Linked DNA regions of Homo sapiens: regions 1, 3, 4 and 5 are each reported to be linked to region 2. The links are microRNA targets in miRTarBase. Many come from high-throughput screens and were not tested one by one. Region 2 holds a microRNA gene; each other region holds the end of a gene's coding sequence. Distances are between the middles of the regions.
Evidence for each region. The annotated mature microRNA hsa-miR-331-3p reads GCCCCUGGGCCUAUCCUAGAA and lies in region 2 at 3,612-3,632, shown strand. An mRNA with a match to its seed (bases 2 to 7 or 8) in the 3' UTR can be bound and repressed. Matches are read on the target gene's strand: a 7mer-m8 pairs with bases 2 to 8, a 7mer-A1 pairs with bases 2 to 7 and ends in A, and an 8mer does both.

Region 1: the mRNA of SYNM is a reported target of hsa-miR-331-3p. The part of its 3' UTR that is shown has no 7-base or 8-base seed match.
Region 3: miRTarBase lists DDX56 as a target of hsa-miR-331-3p. The part of its 3' UTR that is shown has no 7-base or 8-base seed match.
Region 4: the mRNA of MECP2 is a reported target of hsa-miR-331-3p. Seed matches in the 3' UTR shown: 7mer-A1 at 3,276-3,282, 7mer-A1 at 528-534 and 8mer at 18-25.
Region 5: the mRNA of HOXC4 is a reported target of hsa-miR-331-3p. Seed matches in the 3' UTR shown: 7mer-A1 at 1,238-1,244 and 8mer at 1,349-1,356.

Annotation. Positions count from the first base shown.
Region 1 is chr15:99,132,129-99,137,231 of GRCh38, reverse strand. SYNM (synemin) reads right to left here. Exons shown (of 4, transcript NM_145728.3): 4 at 1,639-5,103. The coding sequence ends at 4,174. TTC23 (tetratricopeptide repeat domain 23) reads left to right here. Exons shown (of 14, transcript NM_001288615.3): 14 at 1-909. Among named protein-coding and RNA genes, the nearest start is that of TTC23-AS1, 4.6 kb to the left of the region's middle. RefSeq lists an enhancer at 1-468.
Region 2 is chr12:95,304,869-95,309,971 of GRCh38, forward strand. It overlaps MIR331 (microRNA 331), which reads left to right and starts at 3,552; the gene lies at 3,552-3,645. It overlaps MIR3685 (microRNA 3685), which reads left to right and starts at 5,055; the gene lies at 5,055-5,103.
Region 3 is chr7:44,561,827-44,566,929 of GRCh38, reverse strand. It overlaps DDX56 (DEAD-box helicase 56), which reads left to right. Exons shown (of 14, transcript NM_019082.4): 13 at 406-482; 14 at 851-1,126. The coding sequence ends at 928. Among named protein-coding and RNA genes, the nearest start is that of DDX56, 9.5 kb to the left of the region's middle. RefSeq lists enhancers at 767-1,266, 4,679-5,103 and a silencer at 1,120-1,331.
Region 4 is chrX:154,026,193-154,031,295 of GRCh38, forward strand. It overlaps MECP2 (methyl-CpG binding protein 2), which reads right to left. Exons shown (of 3, transcript NM_001110792.2): 3 at 1-5,103. The coding sequence ends at 4,175. Among named protein-coding and RNA genes, the nearest start is that of MIR718, 8.8 kb to the left of the region's middle.
Region 5 is chr12:54,054,329-54,059,431 of GRCh38, forward strand. It overlaps HOXC4 (homeobox C4), which reads left to right. Exons shown (of 2, transcript NM_153633.3): 1 at 1-33; 2 at 522-1,702. The coding sequence ends at 877. It overlaps FLJ12825 (a long non-coding RNA gene), which reads left to right and starts at 3,926. Exons shown (of 2, transcript NR_026655.1): 1 at 3,926-4,236. RefSeq lists an enhancer at 3,323-3,824.

The DNA of each region.
Region 1 (5,103 bases), not on the chromosome of region 2:
CCCTGGAAGGAGGCCATAGTCGTGTGAGGATGGCAAAGTCGAACAGGAAGCTTTGAGTGCCTTCCTCCACGATGTCAACGAGGAGATCCAGTGCCAGATCGAGGTGGATGGAACACCCAGGGGTAGGGGTGCAGGTGTGGGCAGTGATGTCCCTTCCCCTCCCTCCCCTGGTCCCACAGACTGTGGCCATGAGGCTGCAGGCTGGTGCTATGACAGCAGATTGCAGCACAGGGCCCTCCCCTCCAGCCCCCAGTGGGACATCAAAACCACCCTGGGGCCATTTGTGCAGGGCACCACCTCCAGTATTGATGGGGAAAATAAACTCAGTAGAGCCACGACAGGGTGGAGAGAAGCAGGGACCATTGTCTTCCTCAGGAGCGTGACAGCTGACCCCACAGACCATGCTTGCTGGTACACACTGGTCCCAGACCCAGGCCTGTCGGACATCAGCAGTGTGCTAAAAACGTGTAAGATGTCACTACTCACCGTGTGTCCTATCTAGTTGACATGGGTGGAGTCAGCTAAGGGGTGAATGTTCATATGCTCCCAATTCACGTTGAAGCCCTAATCCCCAAAGGGATGGTATTGGGGGTGGGGTCTTGGAGAGGTGATTAGGTTATGAGGGTGGAGCCCTGATGAATGGGATTAGTGCTTTATAAGGAGAGACACCAGAGAGATGATCTCTCTCTCCACCATGTGAGGACACAGTGAGAAGACAGCCGTCTGCAGGCCCGGAAGAGAGCCCTCACCAGGAAATGAAACTGTTGGCACCTTGAGACTTCCCAGCTTCCAGAACTGTAAGAAATAAATGTTTGTTGTTTAAGCCTTTCAGGCTACGGCTTTCTGTTACAGCAGCCTGAACTGAGAGTCCATGCCGAGTTTTTGAAATAAATGTGAATTCTGATGTTACTTCTTCCTTTCTGTACTTCTTGAAGCGTAGCTTGGAATCACAAAAACTAAAACACATTTTTAAAATTTAGCGCCCCCACCCCACCCCACCCCAGGAAGCAATGAATTTAGGAATGTTCCCTCCAATGTCTCCCATCTGTTAATTCTGTTGACTTCAACGAGAGGAAGACTATAGCTACTTGTGTTTTTCTATTTTTGGTAAAGGGCTACAAGGTTACAAACGGGTAAAGATATCTAGCTATTCCTTTGTCTCAAACTACCTCAGTTTTTTCAAGCCCCTAAGAAATGGCCATGCCTTAGGGTTAACCCTCCAATTTGCACTTATAAGGTAACCAACTGTCCTGGTATGCCCAGGACAGTCCTGGTTTTAGCACTCAAAGTACCACATCCCAAGAAACCTCTCCATCCCAAATGGGATGGTTGGTGGTGTCCTACTGCCACTAGTCATTCAGGCTGTGATGATGACATTTTTACCACAAATTGTCCAGTGTATATTTGATTACAAGCCAATTGGCTTATGCTCTGTCTGCCAGGCTTTCTAGCTCTGTGCTCCCAATATTGAGTTCCGATTCAGGTGAGGAATTAGAGAACTGGAACTTTTCATATATATTCTGCCCAGTAATTCTCTGCTACCCTAAAAACATGCATGTAAACACACAGATTCTTTACTTAGAGTTTAAAGGAAACATCAAAATCTACTGAAAATATTCATTCTCTTTAGGAACAATGTGGGTTTTTTCCTCAGATTTTTATTTTTGCACATTCTTGTGACATTTCCCATTGTAGGGAACAGGAGTTTAGCAAAATCAGCTTCTTAGATGATGTCATTCTAAATATACATCTTAAACAAACAATATCAAAACCACCAGTAGGAAACTGAAAAACACTCAGTGAGTACTGTTTTGTCTCAGTAACAATAAATACAAAAAGACTGGTTGTGTTCCGGCCCCATCCAACCACGAAGTTGATTTCTCTTGTGTGCAGAGTGACTGATTTTAAAGGACATGGAGCTTGTCACAATGTCACAATGTCACAGTGTGAAGGGCACACTCACTCCCGCGTGATTCACATTTAGCAACCAACAATAGCTCATGAGTCCATACTTGTAAATACTTTTGGCAGAATACTTCTTGAAACTTGCAGATGATAATTAAGATCCAAGATATTTCCCAAAGTAAATAGAAGTGGGTCATAATATTAATTACCTGTTCACATCAGCTTCCATTTACAAGTCATGAGCCCAGACACTGACATCAAACTGAGCCCACTTAGACTCCTCACCACCAGTCTGTCCTGTCATCAGACAGGAGGCTGTCACCTTGACCAAATTCTCACCAGTCAATCATCTATCCAAAAACCATTACCTGTTACAGCTAAAACAAAATCAGCACATCTCTGTCTGTATTAGAAACGACAAAACCTTACAAAGCAGTCACCTCCATACCAGTCTGACAATCACTAGTTCATTTGGCAGATGGACAACAAAGGTTTAAACTTGCTATTCCAATCAACTTTCTTTCCCTATCTGATTCATGGTGTTTTTAAAATAGTATCTTGAAAGCTGTGCTGCATTTCTCCTCCACTTATCAATGAAGAAAACGTGCTCTCCAGAAACTACCTGCGGTAGCCACTCCCAGGACCTGGGGAGACGTGCACCCTGGGGGTCTGAGGGCCTCCAGGTGAATCTGAGAGGGAAGACCCTCCAGTGCTGTCGTTGTAGCCTGGCTGAGGGTGGTGCTAGCTCAGACTGTTATTCCCCAGTGCGCCACAGTCAGTGCGATGATGCTGTGTTACTGGAAATACAGCTGAGACAGCATTATGTGAAAGAAGCTAGCCTGAACTAAAAAAAATGCGCTGCTAGCGAAACTCTTTTTATATATGATGCTACACTTTACAGACAGAAACTTTAAAACAATACTGACGTGTAAAATAAAATGAATCCAATGAAGCATGCTCATCCCAGTATCTTAAACTCGGTGGTGCCTATCTACAGGTCCACACTCCGCGGCCCATGAGCATGGGGGCCTTTCTCGCCCCCCAGGCCCGTCCTGGGTATCTCGGTGCTGGGCTGCAGGAGAGATATCCAGTTCCTTCCCCAAAACATCCTTCTATTTAATAAACTGTTTCCCTGGACAAAACACCCCAACTGCAATGACTTCTGTTCAAAGTGCAAAAAAAGCTTCCGTGAGGTGGGTTCATGGTTGTTATTGTATTCATCTTTCACCCTTGAGCTCAGAAAGACCTGCATCCCATGAATGGAGGGTTGGGAAAGGCATCTTTAAGAGGCACAGTCCACTGTGTGCTTCCAATTTTCCTGTACACAGCCAGCTTGCCGGTCCAGCTGCAGTCTGAGTATCGGCATTCTCTTCATTGTCTTCAAGGTCTACCTCCCACCAGTGAAATTAAATGTTTGGGTGCTAAGGGATAAGGTGCAGAGAAGCGCAAGTCTGCACAGTCTGATAGGAACTGGCCACTCCAGAAAAGGGCATTCAGACTGTGTGCTACTTAATGACCTAGTGCCAAAAAATGAAATGGTACTGTAAGCGATTCCCAATAATCATCTACCCTACCAGTGCCAGGGAACCTGTGCAAATAGAATGTGAAATATCACAACAGACTACAGCTGTCCTCGCCATAAATACTATATTGTTTAAAGTTCTGTACATAGAAAGCAATTCATTCAAGTCTTAAGATGAATTTAGCTCTATATGGCAAGTAATTTTTTCCTAAAGATGAAATCATTTAGCAAGAATTTTTTTAACATAAACAGTCTGCCTATTTCCCATTTCTTTTTGAAAAGACTTTTTAGAGTCTAAATTGTATTTATTTTTCCCCTAAAATGTTAGTCTGTTATTTCATATTAGCACATGCAAGCAAAATTTACTCTTAAATATATTACTTTAATCTGGTTAATGTTTTGACATCTATAATTAATTGTAGTTTCAAACAGATGCAAGCCATGTCTGTGACCAGGTGCAAAACATAGAAATTCATCTCCAGAAGTGGAGAGAAGACTCCAGGGAAAAAAGTGTTTTGTAAAAGTCCCAACTCAAAAATAAAATTGCAGTGCCTTTTAAGGCATGAATTAACTGGAAACCTTTACGGATTAACTATAAAGGAAATTGACCATGCCGGGAGTACTCTTTAAAAAAGTAAAAAAGGGGAGATTTTCATAGACTCCCTCGGCCTCTTAAAATAAGTTAAGGCCTTTGGATGTTGGCACGTCGCCAACAGGCTGCCATTAAAACAAAATGTTTCTGCTTATTAAAACCAATGCCCATCATTCTCCTCCTCCTCATTGTCTAGATAGAGGAGGGCAACTTTCTTTTCATCTGAAATCACCGACCTTTGGTCTACCATTCTCTGGAGCTGCACCTTCTTATCAAACATGGCCTGCTCCTTGCCCTGTTCTCTGTGGGCCTGGTCTCCTTCCCCAGCAGAGGCCTTAAAGCTCACACCAACTGCCTGGTCATTCCTACTGTCCGCGTCTCTCCAGGAACCACGGTCAGACACACCGAGAGCTCCCGCTTCCTGTGTCCGGCTGCGGATCGCCTCTACGTTACTCACATCCATCTGAAAGGTAAACGAAGTTTCTTTGGGCCCTGGTGCAATGTGCCTTAGCGTTCTGCTGCTGTCTGCTAACTTGCCTAGCTCAGGGGAGTCCGCTGAACCAGCAAGCACAAATGTTCTGGACACGGGTCCACGGATGGCAATGTGTTCAGAGGTTTCCGTTTCTGTAGGACCTAGTCGAATGTGCCTAAAGGATCTGCTAACACCCGATGTCATTTCTGCCCCTGATGTGTCCTCTGCACTATCCTCCTGGGGAGATTCAGAAACGACACTTTGGAAGGTGCTCTTTTCAGTCATAACGGTTTGTCTACCCGAGGTATGACTGTGAGTGGCCTGGTGCACATCTGCTGAGCCCTCTCCGTGCACAGTGCTCTCTGAGTCACCAGATTCCCCCAGTTGGGGAACCAGCCCATGGTAAACTATCTGCTGGGTGGTCTGATGCCTCTGAGGCCCAATGCTGATGTGCCTGATGGATGTGCTGCTCCCTGGCAACCCTTCCATGTGTACAGAATCTCCTATGACACCCAACTCCACCTTGTCTGAAAGTGGAGCTGTGAACTGGATTTGCCCACTGAACCCTTCTTTAGGGCCTAACTGGAGTTGCCTGACAGAAGTCTGGGTACC
Region 2 (5,103 bases):
ATGAGTCATTCTAGATATCCCAGTTTCCTGCAGAGCTTGAACCTCTTTCAGCCCTAAAATTTTTTGGAATAATCTCTGAAGGAAATCTTCATAAAATTGATATGCATTACTGTCTTAAATAATATATGAATGTATTTTAATTTGTTTGGTATCAAAATGATCAGCATTAACATCACTTATTATAATCTGATAGACTAATCAGACATTGAGAGCTGTTTGTCCCTGTACTAAATGGCTCCATTCTGCTGTACTCGTTTTAGTTTTCATGTCTTTAACAGTCGTTCTGATTCTTCCATTTCTATTACTGCTTGCTTAAGTGTGCCTGTAGCAGTAGCCCTTCTCCACCTTCATAATGTGCCTTCTGATCTGCTTTCATTTTGGAGACCAGACAAACTAAGTTTATTAGACTTCTGTGTAAAGTAAGAATAAATAAACTCAAAGTGAAGACTTGAGGAAGTGGATTATGCTTAAATGCATGGATTTTGTGACATCTGTTACTTTACTACCTGTTTCATTGCTATCGTTAAAATAAGTGAAGCTACCGAATTAGATACCTGCTCTCAAAATAGAAAAGTTGTTATGGTACAAAAGGAACTATTTTGTTTACATACTTTACTTTCTCTAAAGTTAGTTCTATACTAGAATTATTTGGCGCTGATTAAAACTGGTCCACTCAAGTTAGCATTTTCTATAGTATTTTCTATTTGAATTGGAGACTACATGCTGTTAAGAATTTCTTTGGCTTTTTTTTTGTTGTTGTTTTGTTTTGTTTGAGACAGAGTCTCACTCTGTTGCCGAGGCTGGAGTGCAGTGGTGCAATCTCGGCTCACTGCAAGGTCCGCCTCCCAAGTTCACGCCATTCTTCTGCCTCAGCCTCCGGAGTAGCTGGGACTACAGGCGCCCGCCACCACTCCGGCTATTTTTTTGTATTTTTAGTAGAGATGGGTTTTCACCGTGTTAGCCAGGATGGTCTCGATCTCCTGACCTTGTGATCTGCCGTCCTTGGCCTCCCAAAGTGCTGGGATTACAGGCATGAGCCACAGCGCCCAGCCGGCTTTTTTTTTTTTTTTTTTTTTTTTTTTAAGAGAGAAATGTATCTTCATTTCCAAGACATGAAAATAGATTAAGCCCTGAAAAATAAGAAAACATTCACTATTAATGTCACAGAGACCTGAGAAGTAATAAAATTTATAGACTATAGGCAATTATACCACAAAGAATTTATTTTTTGATTATGCTAGTTTTAAAAACAGGGTCTTTATTTTTATTCAGCTATAGTAAGCGGACGTTAAAAGCTTACCAAAAGTTATCAGTGTTAGATCTAATGATATTGGCAGATATTTGAATGACTAAATTCCCACTGTCATTCTGTACTGGGCATGATTAAATTGTAATTTAATATTTAATAATTAAGCAGGATCACTTTTCTCTCTTGAATGAAAAATAAAATTTGCACACTATAATATTTACAAGTAAAAGTCAAATCTGTATAGAAATGGATATCCTAGCATCAAACAACTTATTTTTAGCAACATGCTGATTATTTTAGTAACCATATATTGACTCATGTTTTCATTACAAAGTAACTGTCAAATCAGTCTGTTTATTTTATGACCATGCCTCATAGTCGGCATTCAGTTATCCATGCTAATGGAAGGGATCTGTGGTATAATAATCATAAAAGATAAGTGGTCCAGGCTGGGCGCGGTGGCTCACGCCTGTAATCCCAGCACTTTGGGAGGCCGAGGCAGGTGGATCACGAGGTCAGGAGTTCGAGACCAGCCTGACCAACATGGTGAAACCCCGTCTCTACTAAAAATACAAAAATTAGCCGGGCGTGGTGGTGGTACCTGCCTATAATTCTAGCTACTCAGTAGGCTGAGGCAGGAGAATCACTTGAACCCGGGAGGCGGAGGTTACAGTGAGCCGAGATTGCGCCATTGCACTCCAGCCTGGGTGACAGAGTAAGACTTCATCTCAAAAAAAAAAAAAAAAGATAGGTGGTCCAAACCAGTTTCTTGAGTTGAGACTGCCATTATAGAAGAGATAGTCAAGATACCAAAGCCAGGTCAGTGATAAAAGAAGAAAACTTCTGAGTGTAGTTGTGAGAGGAAAGTGATTCTATTCAGTGTAATTGCTGTAAACCAAAAAGAGGATTAATTGATTCAAGGATTCACACATGTAAAAGTTTAGCATGAATAAGGAGGAACTGATTTTATAGATATTCTAAAATGTGTGATAAGCTAGGACGTAGTGGCTCACACCTACAATCCTAGCACTTTGAGAGGCTGAGGCAGGAGGATCTCTTGAGGCCAGGAGTTCAAGACCAGCTTAGGCAAGAAACAGCAAGACTTGGTCTCTACAGAAAAACTTAAAAATTAGCTGGATGTGGTGGCACACACCTGTAGTCCCAGCTGCTCAGTAGGCTGAGGCAGGAGGATCACTTGAGCCCAGGAGGCCACAGCTGCAGTGAGCCATGATTGCACCACTGCACTCCAGCCTGGGCAACAGAACGAGAGACCTTGTCTCAAAAATAAATAAATGAAAATGGGCTGGGCGTGGTGGTTCACACCTGTAATCCCAGCAGTTTGGGAGGCCCAGGTGGGCGGATCACCTGAGGTCGGGAGTTCAAGAACCGCCTGACCAACATGGAGAAACCCCGTCTCTACTAAAAATACAAAATTAGCCGGATATGGTGGTTCATGCCTGTAATCCCAGCTACTCAGGAGGCTGAGGCAGGAGAATCGCTTGAACCTGGGAGTCGGAGGTTTTGGTGAGCCGAGATTGTGCCAATGCACTCCAGCCTGGGCAACAAGAGTGAAACTCTGTCTCAAAAAAAAAAAAAAAAAAAAAAAGAAGGAAAATGAAATGTGTGATAAATTAAAGTGCATATAGTATTTTTTATGGTATATATTTTAATGTATTTTAGCTTGTCAGCAATGAAATTAGTTTTATCTCTATGTATTGAACTTCATTTAGCAACATATTATTGCAATAGTACAGTATTTAAGCTGCATATTCTCTTGACTGCATTATCCTTTAAAATCAGTATATTCTGTGAGATATGGCTATGGATATATATATTTCCTCTCCTATTTATATCCTAAGATTTTCTTAAAGGATAATTTTACTGTTTTAGGCTTTATGTTTTTCAGTTTTATATCATTTCCTAAAGCTTAGCTACCTACAAATGAATATTATTGAAGAATTTTTCTAAAACTAAAGCATGTCTTTTATAAGTTTACTCTTTTATAATATCCTAAACAAAGCATATCCTTTTCCCCTTCCTTAAGTAAATTCTTAAGGAAATTAACTTCATTTCTAAATCAAAGTATTTTCTGCACTTTTATTGCACCAATCTGTTACCTTCTGTTCATACCATGACTTAAATAATGCTTACTCAGGCACAGTACTATCAGCTGACAACGTACAGAAGGCTCCAGAAATGTCACTCCCATCCCTTAAAGGTTGGTATATGGTCCTGGTACAGTCGTGGAGGTCCATATGGGTGAAAAGCCCAGAAGTCTACCTGAGCTGAAAGCACTCCCAAGGAGTTTGGTTTTGTTTGGGTTTGTTCTAGGTATGGTCCCAGGGATCCCAGATCAAACCAGGCCCCTGGGCCTATCCTAGAACCAACCTAAGCTCGCGCATCATTCCTGGAACATCAAGAGTGTGAAGACTGAAGATAACCTGAGGCCTACCAGACATCCTATATTCACCAAGATTCACATTTTTTGGTATGTGTGCCTACATTTTAGCAAAAATTGGTTGGTTAATCCTTCTAAAATTAGAGGGATGACATTGGGTAACAAAGTCTTCCCAGCCTTTGGCATTATAGTAATTTCTCGCAATAGAAATTCCATACAGATATTATTGCCAGTGAAGAGAGCTATTCTTGTTTATTATCAGTTCTATATTTTTAGCTGAAGCAACTTAGCCCTAAAAAACCCCAAAATCAACTTCTTCCTCCAAATTAAACTCTCCCCCAAATTTAATGGTTTCTGTTTTCTTAAATGTTTTTCTACTTGACACTGTTATGTCAGTCTCATGTAACTGAATAATTGTTCATAATTTCTGAAGAGCATTTAGTCTTTGCCATCTGGCTTCAGTGCCAAATGATTTTCAATTCTTGTTTTTGGAGACTAATGACTTTTTCCTTAATTTATTATCAAATTTGCCACATTTTAGAGCTCACTTTTAGAAGTTCTGCTATGGTTAATGAAAACAAGCTAGAATGACACAGTAGAAATTGGTTAATACGTCACATTTTACATCACTATTTTGTAGAAGATTTTTAGTAAGTTTCTCTATTTTTATTCCTTGCCACTCTGGATTTTACAAATATTCTGACCTAGTTGATCCATCACATGGTCTCATATCACAACTGTTGCATCGCTATATTCACATAGATGTTTTTCTGTTTAATTTAGAAGACAGTATTTCTGAAAAAGTATGAAACGACCCCAAATCCAAAAGTTATGGTGCACAATGAAAATGTATGCTTTTAATAATGCTGGCTTCTGCAGTAGGTGTAGACCATGTTTCAAATAACCACAGACTAATCAGAAACTCCACCTGTGAAAGGAACTTGAAATTGTGCTATTCCTCCAAGCTTATAACACCAGCAAATTGGGTCAATAGGTTATTCCTTTAAAATAGGACTATGAGCCTACAGAGGCTCACTCTGAAGAACTCAGCCGTGGAGTTAGTTCTGTACTATATCCATCACAACAGACATGCTTCATCCCATAGACTTCTTGACATAGCTTGAAATGAGTGAACCCATCCTTGATTTATATACATATATGTTCTCAGTATTTTGGGAGCCTTTCCACTTTTTTAAACCTTGTTCATTATGAACACTGAAAATAGGAATTTGTGAAGAGTTAAAAAGTTATAGCTTGTTTACGTAGTAAGTTTTTGAAGTCTACATTCAATCCAGACACTTAGTTGAGTGTTAAACTGTGATTTTTAAAAAATATCATTTGAGAATATTCTTTCAGAGGTATTTTCATTTTTACTTTTTGATTAATTGTGTTTTATATATTAGGGTAGTACATTTCCTACCCTACCTGAAGACTTGAGATTATAGTCTTTGGGGGG
Region 3 (5,103 bases), not on the chromosome of region 2:
TGGTTGGCCTGGGGGAGTCCATGGGGTGGGCGAGGTGAAGATAGAGCCAAGATCAGGTGCAGCTGGGATGCGGGGCCCCCTGTATCGGTAGTAATGGGCCACAGGTGAAGAAACTACCTGTTGACTTTTATTTCAGCTGCATTTTCTTTCTTTAAGGATGTCTGTCTTTTTCTTTCTTGTTACATGTTTGTTGTAACAAATCTAAACAATATAGGAGAGTGATTTAAATAGTGGAAGTCTAAGGTGCTCACATTCTCCTGGCCCTGTGCAGATGTGGTAGTGAATAGATGTATGTCATAGGCTGCCAGTTGGGTCAGAATTGGAGAATTTGCTGCAGAATCAGCGGGAGGGCAGGGATGGGAGCAGTAGCGGTGAGCCCACTGCTCAGGCAAGCATCTCTTCCAGTTCCTCCTGCTCTCCGTGGCCTGGTGCGCCCTCACAAGAAGCGGAAGAAGCTGTCTTCCTCTTGTAGGAAGGCCAAGGTACGGCTCCTGGGGACTGCGGACAGCCCCAGGACTCCTCCCAACCTGCTCTTTTGTCATCACCAGAATGTGGAGGCGCCTTGCCCTAGGGAGGGGAAGAGAGGGTGCCCTAGGGAGGGGAAGAGGGGGCACCCTAGAACCGGGCCCCAAAAATCTGGTGTGGGATAGGGGTACTTTTGCAGCCGCCTGCAGGCCCTGCTTTTCTTTCCCCAGCTGCCTTTCCCCATTTCCTTATCTGCAGCACCTTCTGGTCGTGTTGGCCAGTTGCCGGCACGGCTCCCTTTGTGTCTTTCTCAGTTGGGTGGGTGGGTGGGTGGATTGTCTGTCGGCCTGATTCCCCCAACTAACCTGTGACTTTGCCTCCTTAGAGAGCAAAGTCCCAGAACCCACTGCGCAGCTTCAAGCACAAAGGAAAGAAATTCAGACCCACAGCCAAGCCCTCCTGAGGTTGTTGGGCCTCTCTGGAGCTGAGCACATTGTGGAGCACAGGCTTACACCCTTCGTGGACAGGCGAGGCTCTGGTGCTTACTGCACAGCCTGAACAGACAGTTCTGGGGCCGGCAGTGCTGGGCCCTTTAGCTCCTTGGCACTTCCAAGCTGGCATCTTGCCCCTTGACAACAGAATAAAAATTTTAGCTGCCCCAGTTTGTGCCTCCAGCATATGAAAAGGACTATTTGAATCCCCAAAACATCAGGAGTCGGGAAACTTCGGAAGACAGCTGTGCCTGGCTCTGTGGCTGCATGCAGTGCTTCACTTGGCCAGCAGAGGTCAGCTGTGCCGAGCTGCCCCAGCCATGAGAAGAGAAGCCTGCCCTTGCTGGCAGGTGGCTATGGCCGGCCCAGAGCCTTCCTGCCCAGCTCCTGCAGCCCTGCTGCCTGGGATCAGGCTGGGAGATGGGCCTTCCTGACCGCCAGCCTTCCTCTCCCCGAGCACACGCACATGTAGATTCGGGGGGAAGCTGCCTGCTCTTCCTTAGAGGAGCCGGGGCAGCTATCTGCTGGTCCCTTTCTGAACAACTGTTGATGTGTGAGCTGTGTCTGTGTGTTATGTGCATAAGCGGTGGTGTGACATACACACATGTGTACTGTCCCTTATGCCCTGGCCTGAGCTCTCCAGCTGCCTTCTCAGCCTGAAGGCTGGGCTTCTCTGCTGGCTTGGGGTCCTAGATTGCATGTCACCTGCTTACCAGGCGTCACAAGGCCATGCTGGGGGCATGAGGAGGTTGGGGCAGCAGGAGAGTGGGGAGAAACTAGGAGAGTGCCTGAGTATTTTAGAAAGAACCAAGTTTTTTCTCGGCAAAAGCTTATACAGAGACGAAGGAGTCTGTGTCTTTGGTCATGGTAGGACTGAAGCTAGCAGGACCCGAGATTTGGGGCCTCCATGATCCCTGCTCCTCTTCTGTTAACACCCAAGGATTTCCACGAAGCCAGTGTGTATGATGGGGGCAGGACAGTGGTACTTTCTGGGCAGGTGTGAACTAGAGCTGCTAAGGAGCTGCAGACGATATTCTTGCAGTTTGGTGGTTAGCAGTATTCAGAAGGACAAAGAGTTAATGGAACTGGAGATAAAGAGCAACCATTTGAGCATCTGCTGGGAGACATCTGTCAACTGCACAGACCCTATCAGTGGGCATCGCTGCCACCTCTTGGAAGACAAGACAGGGCAGAGAGTGCCTGCAGTGCTGAGGCCTGGTCCTTGCCCTAGGTTGGCCTTCCCACCTGGCTTCATGGAGTGCTGAGGCTGGTCCTGGGGACAGTGAGTGCTCTGGATGTTTTAGCCAAGCTGTGTTCTAAAGTGATGCACAGTCTGTCTCCACTATGTTTATCTCTCTGACCCTGTCACTTCCAAGCACACCCTACCAAGAGCTTGTATCCCAGAGCCACCCTGATGGAGAGGAGATTGGTTTCCCCAGTGATTTCCTTCTTTGGGGGGTGGGGTAGAGGAACATGGAGCCAGCCTTATGCTGTATTCGTGCCTGGGGATAGCAGGGTCTGGGCCCGGAGCAGAGGAGCTTGGGTAAAGATATGGAGGCTGTTTGTTCAAAGTGTACATTCCTTCCTCCTAACGGCATCCCTGGGGGAAGCTATTTCTATGTTTTAGGTGGGGAAGATGAGGCTTAGAAGTTGCCTGGTGAATGAGGTTCTTTGCAAGATTTGGGTTCTGGCCTGTCCACCCTGGTGGAGTAGCTGGTACCACGGGGGCTTTTGCTGTGGGGTTAGGCACCATGTGGGCGCTCTGGGGCCAGGGCATTGGAAAGAATGGGAGGATTGCTTGAGCCCAGAAGTTCGAGGCTGTATGATCACGCAACTGCACTCCATCCTGGGCAACATACTGAGACACTCTCTCTCTTTTTTTTTGAGACAGAGTCTCACTTTGTTGCCCAGGCTGGAGTGTGGTGGTGCAATCTCAGCTCACTGCAACCTCTGCCTCCTGGGTTCAAGCAATTCTTCCCGCCTCAACCTCCTGAGTAGCTGGGATTACAGGTGGCCGCCACCACGCCTGGCTAAGTTTTTTATATTTTTAGTAGAGACAGAGTTTCACCATGTTGGTCAGGCTGGTCTTGAACTTCTGACCTCAGGTGATCCACCCACCTCGGCCTCCCAAAGTGCTGGGATTACAGGCGTGAGCCACCATGCCTGGCCGTGAGACTCTATCTTTAAAAAATAAAGAACAGGAAGGTCCATCTTCGTGTCCTGAGACTACAGAGAGAAAGTAAGTATAAATGGCTCGTTCAACACCCCACCTGGGAGGCAGGTACCATGTGCCCATTTACGTGTGAACAAACAGGCACTCAGGGTTGGCCTCTTGGACTTAGTCTGGCCAAAGCCTGTGCCCTTTGCACAAATGTGCAAATCAGGACTGGGGCAGGCCTTGGATGAGGGTATGTGTGCTATGGGCAAATGAACCTAGGGCTGTCCAGGGCCAAACAGCACAGAGGGCATGTGGGCCTGGAAGGGAGGAAGGAGGTGTGGCACATGCTGCGTGGAAGCCTAAGGCTTCACTAAACAGCAGAGAAGCTTGGATGGTTTTCAGGCTGGTGACGCCCTGGGCTGAAGCAGGAAGGTCAGGAGAATGCAGTGGCCTCTCCACTCTGGGCTGGCACAGTTTTGCCCACATGTATACCTGAATGGGTGCCTGGCTGTGTGGACTGTGCTATGGTCTGGAATCAGATGGACAAGGCACAGTCTATGAGGCAAGGAGCAGAGATGGTCAGCCAATGCAGACTGCTCAATAGTCATGTTGGGAGTTCAGGGTACTGGAGGGCTATAAGGGGCCCTCACCCAGTTGGAGAGAATGCTGCCTTCCTTGAGAAAGTGAGGTTTATGCTGAGATGGGAAGGGTGGGAGGGAACAGCAATCCTAGCAGGGGAGACAGCATGTGCAAATTCCCTGGGGTGGGAGGGATCCCTGCACATTTGAGGGTGAAAAGACCAGAGGGTTGTTACCAAAATATGCAATGGGGGCTGAAAATTTGATTTTTTAAAAAAATGTAATAGTCACATATTAAAAATTCAAAGGATACAGAAGATGGAGGGTTTTTGAAAACAAGGGCATTCTTTTTTTTTTTCTTTCTTTTTTTTTTTTTTTTTTTTGAGATGGAGTCTTGTTCTGTCACCCAGGCTAGAGTGCAGTGGCGCCATCTCGGCCCAGTACAACCTCCGCCTCCTGGGTTCAAGCGATTCTCCCGCCTCAGCCTCCTGAGTAGCTGGGATTACAGGCACCCACCATCATGCCTGGCTAATTTTTGTATCTTTGTGGAGATGGGATTTCACCATGTTGGCCAGGATGAACTCCTGACCTCGGGTAATCCACCCGCCTCGGCCTCCCAAAGTTCTGGGATTACAGGCGTGAGCCACCACACCCGGCCAACAGCATTCTGATGATATAGCTGGTGATAGCAGATGGGAGGACAGTGGTGTGCCCAGAAACCTCTGGACCTGGAGCACAAAAGGCTCAGGGTGCATTCCCAGCCCAGCGGATTCTCTGCCTGCATCTGCTAAGGATGAATGACTCAGCTTTGGGGGAATTAGTTGTGAGACTTTGGACTTCAGGGGCGGGGCCCCAAGAGGCAATGGTGATAAAGTTGAATTTGAGCAGGGAAGGTGCCCCGTCAGCTGTCATCCTTTTCCCCAGGAACATCATTATGTAAGACTCCTGCCTTGTGGAACAGGCTGTGAGTTGCTGCTCTTCCATTCCTCACAGCCATGTTTACAAGGGTAAGGAAGGGAAGGAGTGGTTCATCATTGCAGAGAGGAAGGTGCCTTGGCCAAGCAGACCTGCTCTGTGCCAGGCATGACACTGGGCAAATGCACAGTATTTAGTTTATTTATCCTGAAATGCTTTCAGAACTCAATGCATCCAGTGTCTTGTTATCCCTCCAGCCTATCCGCAAACCTGCTGAGATGCAGTAGGTTTGGCGTAGAATGCACTGAGGGTATCTGTGGCAACAGTGGGCTAAAGAACAAGGCACATCAAGGGGGTCTTCCGACGAACACCCCAAGGGTTGCCTCCACCACGCAGCATCCTGCTGTGGCTCGCCTCAATGTCCCAGGTGCTCTGTGGGCACAGTGGCCAGGTCAGACCATGATGGCCACTTTCTGACTGTATGGTCTCATACAGG
Region 4 (5,103 bases), not on the chromosome of region 2:
AACTGGTACCTGTAACCTCCCCTGGCCCAGTCAGCCCAGAGAGCCTGACTGGAATGCTCTGGAAAAGGAGCTGTGGTTAGACGGGGGACACAGAGTTCTGGCTGTCAGGCTCCACTTGGGCTAAACCAATTCCAGATGGTCCCGCGCAGGGGACTCCGCTCGTATCCCTCTGCTCCCTCCTGGGCTTGAGCCGCTTACTAAGTGATTTAAAATTCAGAGATTCTGTCAGCTAAAGAAACTCCTTTCTCCACCCAACTTGGCAGTTTGTGTCTGGTTATTACCCTCTTTCGCCATCACTGTCACAGCAATGAAAAGCTGGGCAGAGAAGCAGGTGACAATTTGGGGCTGCTCCCTGTCCCAGGTGCACTGTTCATGCTTCGGGCCTGGAATGATGCCACCCAACAGAAGATTGTCTGCACCCGCACTGGCGCTCACGAGTAGCAGCTTCCGCCATCCAGCGAGCTGAGAAGCTGGGGCCGTTGGCTAGTTTGGCACTGATGGATTGGGGGATGTGGCGTTTCTGGGTGTCCCCTGTGTCTTTTGATATGGGAATACAGCATCAACAGAAGGGAGCTGTGCTAGCGCCTGGCTGTGACCAAGTATCTCCAGCTCACTGAGCTGTCAAGACCGGCAATCCCACTGGCTATGACAAGCCCACCAGCAGGCAGGGCCGGGAGGGGTAGACCTGGGGGGAGCTCGACGACATACAGTATTGTCAGGAGAGGAGGTAGTAACTAACAACTGGAACAAGGGTGGGGGAGACTGTGGATGTGGCCTTAATGACCTAGCCCCATGGGTACTGGAAAGCTGTCGGTCAATTCTGCTGTTCACAAATTCACTGAAAGAGGCCCCCATCTTCATAATGTTCAAGTACAGACAAAATTGAAATTGAGGTCACACCCCAAAACTGGGCCGGACACAGCTGGTGAGAATCCTGCAGCTTAAGGCTTTCCCTCCAACCTCCTGTCAACCTGACCCCAAGGCAGGGGCAGCATGAGAGCTGCAGGGCCCCTGCCTGCCAGGGCGATAAACCGCCAAGGCTGCCTGCTGAAAGGCGACTGACTCGTGATGCCTTTGGGAAAGACGAGGGAATGAGGAAGAAAGGGGGAAATAGAGAGAAAACCCTAAGGAGCCTCAGGCCCCACTGGCAGCTCTGGAATAAACTGGAAGGGAAAGAGGCTGGGCAACTGCCTCTTTGAGGGAGCTGCAGGTGGGGCCCGAATGAAATAAAGTGACGCTTGAAATGCTGTGTTCCCAACCACGACTGCCCCATCGGCCCTGAATGAACTGTCATGGGTGACAGGGGGGCCTGGTGGGCCACGCACTCCTCTTACCAGGACCAGATGACGCCCAGGTGACGGGGAAGCAGCTCTGGACAATGATTCCAGAAGCCACATTACATTTGACTAAGTATAATACATAAAAACCCAACTGACCAAAATAAACATCTTCTCAGTGACAACCTGGTCGGATGCTGCGCTCTCGTGGATAAGTGTCCTTTGGTAGTGCCAGGAGTTCGAGGCCACTATGGGGGCAGGAGCCTTCTGTCCTTGGAGGAAGAGTTCTGGAGGACTCACCCTCTCTTCTGACCCCCCTTCCCTTCCTGGGGAAGAGTCAGAAGTGAAGCTGGGGGGGTCATCAGCAGAGCAGGTGGAAGGGATCAGGGATCAGGGATTGGGCTGATGGGAGTTTGGTTGCAGGACTTGCTTTTACAGCATAAGGAAATGGACACATATATGCTAGAAAGTCCAACTATGAGACTCTACAAACAGAACGGGGCAAACTCCCTCACTTCTAACCATTCCAGAAGAGACAAACACGGTTTTTTCTTAAGCTACTGATTGGAACTGTCAACTATGGTTCCTGATCACTAAAGACTGGCAAGGAAGTGCTAGACAGTTTCTATGATGTTTCACTCCTTCATGATTACACCATAGTAAGGAAGCCAGGGACAATAACTGAAATACACAAGACAACACACACTTGACAGTTCATGGCAGCAGCTCACATGGGACATGCCTGTGGGTGTTTCTGGAAGCATAAGACTGCTGTCTCATTTGCTACTTTGATAAGGTACTTCTCAGTTGGACAGATTTAGATATAAGAGACATCTCTGTAAACACAGAAAAGGATATACCAATATGATGAAGATATGCAGCTAGATAAGGACTTCCTGAACAGAGGTTAAAAAGATGGGATCCCACATGAAAACTGATCAATTAAAAACCCACAGCAAGCCCATGCCTCTAAGCCCCTACACCACAGCTATGGACCAGACAGACAGTGAAATGTGTGGTGTTCTGGCCCCCTGTCTGCATCGAGCAAAAGCAAAACATTGCCATTCAAGAAGAACTCCGAGGGAAAAGGGGGAGCAGAGGAAGGGCTGGGGACCCAGGTACTGGTCCCAGCTCGGGTCTTGGGAGTTCTGCATTGGTACCGCTACTGCCCTGCTGCACTACGCTAGACTCTGGACTTCTGAGTGAGGTCAAGGTCGGCTGGCATGGAGCCCCTGTTGGGCCACTCGATGACTGGCAGGCCACAGGAGGCCTCTGTGCTTTCCTCAACTACCAAATCGGGCCCAGCTCCTCCAGTCCACTTCTCTAGAGTAGAAGGGTGAAAAGGCTCGTTGTTCAGGGTGGGAAATGCCTTTTGCTTTTTCTTACCAGGGAAGAGGGGGCTACCTAGGAGAGCAAGACCTTGCTGCTCTCTTGCTCTTCACAGACAGGCCAGGTCGGACTCAGCAGAGCCCAAGGCCTCCTCAGGGCTCAAAACAGGGTGGGGCTGGTACTGGCAGCAGGAGGACAAAGGGCAGGCAGAGTTCTGGGGACTGGAGCCGACAAGTGTGGTTGGGCACCGCGGCTGCCTGGAAGAGAAGGGATGAACTAGGAAGGAGGAGGATGGAGGAAGGGAAAGAAGTGAAAGGATGAAATGAACAAAAGGCAGAAATGGAAGGGGAGAAGAGAAACCAATCAGGAAGTCCTTATAAAATTGCAGCAAACACTTAGAGTTTCGGAGCTTCGTGGGAACCCTATGTGCTGAGCCCACTTTAAAACAAGCGCAGGTATATATACAAATCCAGGTAGTTCTCAACACTGTCACATCTGGTGGCTTGAGGGACTAAATGTCACCAATTCAAGCCAGTTTGCTCTCAGAGCATCTGTTTGTTTTGAAGTGGGAACATGAAGACTCAATAGTGCAAATAATTCTAAGCTGTCCCTAAAGGAGAATTGGAAAGTAACTGGAAGAACATTTTCTTCTCCTCCCCCTTTGCCCCCTCCCCTGTCCACTAAGTCACAGACTGCTCTGAGTGATTAGGAATCCCTCTCACCCCGCTGTGCTCTGCCCGGCCTGACCCCAGGCCAGCCTGCCTGCACCTTGTCCTACTGCCTCCATGGCCTCTAGCGCCACCCGTTGGAGGACGTCCCTTGAGAATGGACCATGCCACCTCACCCTGGGCCATCCTCTCCTGTGGTTCAGGCCAGTCTACACCCAGTAGTTCAAGGGACTCCCCCCTCCTAGCCATGCCAGAGCTGGAGCAGACAGGTGCCACTTTCCTGTCCTGTGAAGCGTCCTTGCCAGTTTTGGATTGGGGCTGGTGTGGGGCCAGACTTGAGCCACCACGGGTGGGATCGCACAGGCCATAGCCACTGGTCATATCCATCTTCTCTAAAGAATCCAACTGTCTCTCCTGCCTCACACCTCCCTGTCCCAACGTGGTTGGGAGTGGGGGAGGTGGGGGGAGCTGGGGGAGCTGTAGACGGGGCACTGATGGCACCGAAAACGGGAGTGTCCTCTCAACTGCTCTGTCGCTCTGTCTCTAACGACCACATGGGGGAAAGGTTTGGGCGGGAGGGGAGGTGCCTGGTCAACAGCTTGTCTGGTCAGTAGTATCTGCAGCAAGCCTTGTTGAAGGAGCCTAGTTTAGAAAAGTGCAAAGCTACTTCTGGCCCTGGTTAGGTCTTCAACCTGACTGTGCTTGTCGGTAAGAAAAACATCCCCAATGCTCCAACTACTCCCACCCTGAAGCCACGAAACTCTAAGTTTACTGAAAGAAAAAAAAATATTTTTTATTTCAGTTAATCGGGAAGCTTTGTCAGAGCCCTACCCATAAGGAGAAGAGACAACAGCTGCCTTTATTCTTGTTGGTTTGCTTTGCAATCCGCTCCGTGTAAAGTCAGCTAACTCTCTCGGTCACGGGCGTCCGGCTGTCCACAGGCTCCTCTCTGTTTGGCCTTGGCATGGAGGATGAAACAATGTCTTTGCGCTCTCCCTCCCCTCGGTGTTTGTACTTTTCTGCGGCCGTGGCGGCGGTGGCAACCGCGGGCTGAGTCTTAGCTGGCTCCTTGGGGCAGCCGTCGCTCTCCAGTGAGCCTCCTCTGGGCATCTTCTCCTCTTTGCAGACGCTGCTGCTCAAGTCCTGGGGCTCAGGGGGGCTGGTGGGGTCCTCGGAGCTCTCGGGCTCAGGTGGAGGTGGGGGCAGGGGTGGGAGCAGTGGCACGGGGGCCTTTGGGGACTCTGAGTGGTGGTGATGGTGGTGGTGCTCCTTCTTGGGGGGTGAGGAGGCGCTGCTGCTGCGCCCCTTGGGGCTGCTCTCCTTGCTTTTCCGCCCAGGGCTCTTACAGGTCTTCAGTCCTTTCCCGCTCTTCTCACCGAGGGTGGACACCAGCAGGGGCTTCACCACTTCCTTGACCTCGATGCTGACCGTCTCCCGGGTCTTGCGCTTCTTGATGGGGAGTACGGTCTCCTGCACAGATCGGATAGAAGACTCCTTCACGGCTTTCTTTTTGGCCTCGGCGGCAGCGGCTGCCACCACACTCCCCGGCTTTCGGCCCCGTTTCTTGGGAATGGCCTGAGGGTCGGCCTCAGCTTTTCGCTTCCTGCCGGGGCGTTTGATCACCATGACCTGGGTGGATGTGGTGGCCCCACCCCCCTCAGCCTTGCCCCCTGGCGAAGTTTGAAAAGGCATCTTGACAAGGAGCTTCCCAGGACTTTTCTCCAGGACCCTTTTCACCTGCACACCCTCTGACGTGGCCGCCTTGGGTCTCGTGGTGCCGCTCCCTTTGGGGCGTCCCCGGCCTCTGCCAGTTCCTGGAGCTTTGGGAG
Region 5 (5,103 bases), 41 Mb from region 2:
ACCCATGGATGAAAAAAATTCACGTTAGCACGGGTAGGCAACTTTGCTTTTTGCTCCCCCCCTCCCTCCCTTCTTCCCTAGCGCTCCCCACCCTCCTCGGCCCCCTCTGGCCCCCGTCCTCCTTTCTCTCCTTCCCCCTCTCTCTCCAGGAGCGACTCTGGGTTAGCACAATTGAACTGGATTTACGAGCGAGAATGGGTAATTACATCCCCCATAAATTTTATGGCTTAGCTACTCTGGGCAGTCCGAGCCATGTGCTACGATCTGTTATGTATGTGTGAAAACTATGCTCGCTTTCTAAGGGCGCATAAATAATTCAGTGTCGTTACAATGAGGATTCCCCTCTTATTACACTACAAAGTCTTCAGCTTCCTTCAACTTCTTTATAACCCATTTAAGCTTGATGACTTTATTTCCACCACTCCCTCCTCCTGTTTCTCAGAGCTGAGGATGGGGTGAGGGTGGGGGGCGGGGAGCCTGCTGCCTCTGAACCCCACTATTTGCTTTTCCCCTCCCCCCAGTGAACCCCAATTATAACGGAGGGGAACCCAAGCGCTCGAGGACAGCCTATACCCGGCAGCAAGTCCTGGAATTAGAGAAAGAGTTTCATTACAACCGCTACCTGACCCGAAGGAGAAGGATCGAGATCGCCCACTCGCTGTGCCTCTCTGAGAGGCAGATCAAAATCTGGTTCCAAAACCGTCGCATGAAATGGAAGAAGGACCACCGACTCCCCAACACCAAAGTCAGGTCAGCACCCCCGGCCGGCGCTGCGCCCAGCACCCTTTCGGCAGCTACCCCGGGTACTTCTGAAGACCACTCCCAGAGCGCCACGCCGCCGGAGCAGCAACGGGCAGAGGACATTACCAGGTTATAAAACATAACTCACACCCCTGCCCCCACCCCATGCCCCCACCCTCCCCTCACACACAAATTGACTCTTATTTATAGAATTTAATATATATATATATATATATATATATAGGTTCTTTTCTCTCTTCCTCTCACCTTGTCCCTTGTCAGTTCCAAACAGACAAAACAGATAAACAAACAAGCCCCCTGCCCTCCTCTCCCTCCCACTGTTAAGGACCCTTTTAAGCATGTGATGTTGTCTTAGCATGGTACCTGCTGGGTGTTTTTTTTTAAAAGGCCATTTTGGGGGGTTATTTATTTTTTAAGAAAAAAAGCTGCAAAAATTATATATTGCAAGGTGTGATGGTCTGGCTTGGGTGAATTTCAGGGGAAATGAGGAAAAGAAAAAAGGAAAGAAATTTTAAAGCCAATTCTCATCCTTCTCCTCCTCCTCCTTCCCCCCCTCTTTCCTTAGGCCTTTTGCATTGAAAATGCACCAGGGGAGGTTAGTGAGGGGGAAGTCATTTTAAGGAGAACAAAGCTATGAAGTTCTTTTGTATTATTGTTGGGGGGGGGTGTGGGAGGAGAGGGGGCGAAGACAGCAGACAAAGCTAAATGCATCTGGAGAGCCTCTCAGAGCTGTTCAGTTTGAGGAGCCAAAAGAAAATCAAAATGAACTTTCAGTTCAGAGAGGCAGTCTATAGGTAGAATCTCTCCCCACCCCTATCGTGGTTATTGTGTTTTTGGACTGAATTTACTTGATTATTGTAAAACTTGCAATAAAGAATTTTAGTGTCGATGTGAAATGCCCCGTGATCAATAATAAACCAGTGGATGTGAATTAGTTTTACGTCAATGTCTGATGGTTTCTTTTTATTCCCCTCCCTCTCTGGCCTGGTAACATCCCATCTTCTCTATAGTTGCCTAAGTTTACTTTAAACAAACACACAAATCTTAGCTCTCCATTAGTCTTCCAATGTCCTTAGAAGAACAAGCAAGGGGGTTGGGGTATGGGATCTTCAGAAGAGGGGATGTGGAAGATTAAGGCTGATTTCTCCAGTCCCCTTCCTTCCCCCTGAGTCTGCAGAGAGACCAGACTCCTCTGGGGGCACTTCAGTGGAGCTGAGGGTGGGGAGTGTCTCACTTTTCTATAGTTAGGTACAGTTTCTTCTTTTTGTCTTTTCTCTCTCTTCCCTTCTCCCTCCTCTGTGCTGAGTAGGCCTGCCTACTTTGTAGACAAGGGGGCAAGTTTAGGGAGTGGGAAGGAGAATAGTTTTCTTTCATCTTTTAGGGCTCTTTTGGGATGAGGGATTAAGGAAGACATCCCCTCAACATTTGAGTTCTTAAAAGAAGGAAGGTTTTGAGCTGGTGACTCTGAAGCAGCAAAGTCACCTGTCAGGATGCCTTCTCTGTTTGTTTAGGCTTGGAAAAAAGACTGGCCAGAGGCCTGGGAGGTACCCTTGTTATGGATAGGCCTCAAAGGCTGATGCCTGGAGATAATAAAAGACTTTTACCTTTTTATTCTCTAACTTTTATTATGGACCTGCCAGGTGTTGCGAAGAGACTTAGGGAGAGTCAAGGACCACCCTCTCTTCCTATAACCTCCCAGGTCCTGGCAGCGTATGGGGATAGCCTGAACAAGTTTCTCTGGCTGTAAAGAAATAAATTAATTAAATAAATTTGTTTCCTTGGGGCTAAAAAAGAAACAAAAAATCTTGCCTGGATTACCTGAATACATTCAAGCCAAAGGCTCCCAAATAATTCTGGTCCTGAGATCCAGGCCCTAGCAAGGCCTGCTTAATTTTTTGCTTGTTTGTTAGGAGAAGGTGGGAGGAGGGCTGTTGGTGACCTTCTTCTCGGACGATTTATCCATATTTCAGGAAGAAAGGCAATTAGAAGTAGAAGACAGAGGGAGAAGAGATCTAGGGTATGCAGGGAAGCCAGGGATACCCCTTCCCCCTATCCCCAAATTCTGGAGTGAAAGGCAACAGCAGGACTAAGTTGTACAAATCACATTGGTGTGCTTTGAATTTATTTCCTTTTGAACCACTTGCTGGTTGTTACTTGGTGTGTGTGTGTGTGTGTGTGTGTATGCATGCCCTCACACGTGTGTGTGTTGGGGGGAGTCTCTTAGTCCTTTAGGTCTACTTTTCCTCCCTCAGTGGTACCCTGGAGACAACAAAACATGCTGCCTACAGTATGAGGAGGCAGGCCAACAATTATCTGGAGTTTTTTATGTAATCAAGTGAATTAGGGGCCAAATCTGACTGTAGCCCCTATCGTCTTGAGGCGATTGCCCTTGGAACAGAAAAAGGGGGTTCTAGCTGTGCTTAGGAAAAGGGAAGGAAGGTCTAAGGGCACCAGGGTGTCTTTTCAAGCCTGTAAAGGAGCTAAGATGGAAAGCAGGGAAGGGGTAAATTGAGATCCATGGTTCTTTCCTAAGTTTGCTCGCGTGGCTTTCAGGGAGTTTATCCCTCTCCTCCTGAAAGTGGAAGAGATGAGAGTGAGGAGGGGGAAAATTACTACATTTTATTTCCTAAGTTTCTCCCTGAAATTGCAGAAGGGACACTCTAGTTCAGGAAAAGCAGCATAAAAGGGTCAGAACACTTATTTTATTTCCCCTTCTTTATGTCTTCTGTTTCTTCTCCTTCCTCTTCCCTCACATACATGGTCATTCTGCATGTGTCTCCTTCTGTTCTTTCTGGTCTGAAAAGGGGAAACATCAGAAATCCATAATTCTTGACAAATGAACCCAAACTAAAATCCCTTACATTTGAGTTTGAAGATTTTGGCCTCTGGCCTTCCCTCCAGTGGGCTCCATTTTCTCCCCTTTCCCCAAAGCTCTCCTTTGCCTTGGACTTGGCAACCCAGAATGGCATGGCAGGGTTGGGATGTGGGGGGCCAGTCTGGGCCGAGGGCCCCAAGCTCCAGCAGTCTTGGTCCCTGCTGCTCTGCCTGATGCTGCTACAGCCTCGCTGGGAAGCTGAGGGCTGGGCTTTTATTTAAGTTGGGTTGAGCAGTGGGGAAAGGCTGGGGGGAGGACACAGCCCAGGTTCACGGGGAGGACACAGCATTTTCTCTCCCATTGCCTTTATATTCGGCAGCGCCTCTGACCTCTCCCCCACCCCCATCTCTGACCCTCCCAAGCCAGCCCTTGCTCAGCCCTGGTCTCCAGATAGGATGCCACTGCTTTTGTAGGACTGGGGATTTCTTGCCCAGAGTAATGGGAGAGGCAAGGCGCATGAATGCCTGTAAGTGCATTGTATCCCTCTCTCTTCAATGGCTAAGTAAAAAGAAGACGGGTGAAATGTCGACACCAATCTTCCAGGGTTCCTTCTCTCCAAGCGCCAGGAGATCCCCACAGGCCAAAGATCCCATTGACACGTAAGTAGTTAGCACTCGGTCTGCTCTGGGGGTGAGGAGCACAAAAGTTTAAACTCTTATTTGCCACTCAATTTTTGTCTCAACTCCCGGTCTTAGGCAGGGAAGGCGGGAAATCCAATTGTAAGCGGAGGGGTTCTGCTTGGAGAAAAAGACGGTTCTGTGCTGAGTCTGTGTACCTGGGGAGTAAAGAAATTTGGCTCAAAAAAGAGAGAGTCTGAGAAAGTGAGACTGAGGGAAAAGGACTGGGGCACTTTGCCTTTCCGAGGGTCTCTTGCTGCTGTTTGTGTGAAGTTTCCTACAAAGTTTTCTCTGCAATCTGTGCTTCAGTTTTCTTTCTGCTTGGACTTGGCAGATTGAAATCCAGAGACAGCTTCCCACAGCTAGGGGTGTGTGTGTGTGTGTGTGTGTGTGTGTGTGTGTGTGTGTTGGGGGGAGTTGTAGGGAAGTGAAAACAATTAAAAGGTTTGCTGGGAGCTTGGAGCCAGGGTGTCCTTCTCTGCTTTTCTAGGATTAGGGGAGACTGACTCTGAAAGGGGCCCTTAAGATCAAGGGTGCTATGACGGGGAGGAGCAGTGCGCTGGAGCAACTGTACCATCTTTTTCTCTGCCTTTTGCCCAGTCCTGGGGGAGCAAGCTATTGCACTCACAAAACCACCGCTCCGGGTTTTCCACAGCTTCTATCTGGCACTGCACCTATGGAGAGCTAATTTTAATTTAAATGTTCCCCTTCCAAGAGACCCCTCTCAGGCTTGGAATGAGAGATGGAAGATCCCTGAACACCAGAACTCCAGCGGCCACCAGAGCAGAGGGAATATTTATTACCTCTCTGGATGTCATTACCTAAGAATACAATTTTATGAACTTCCTA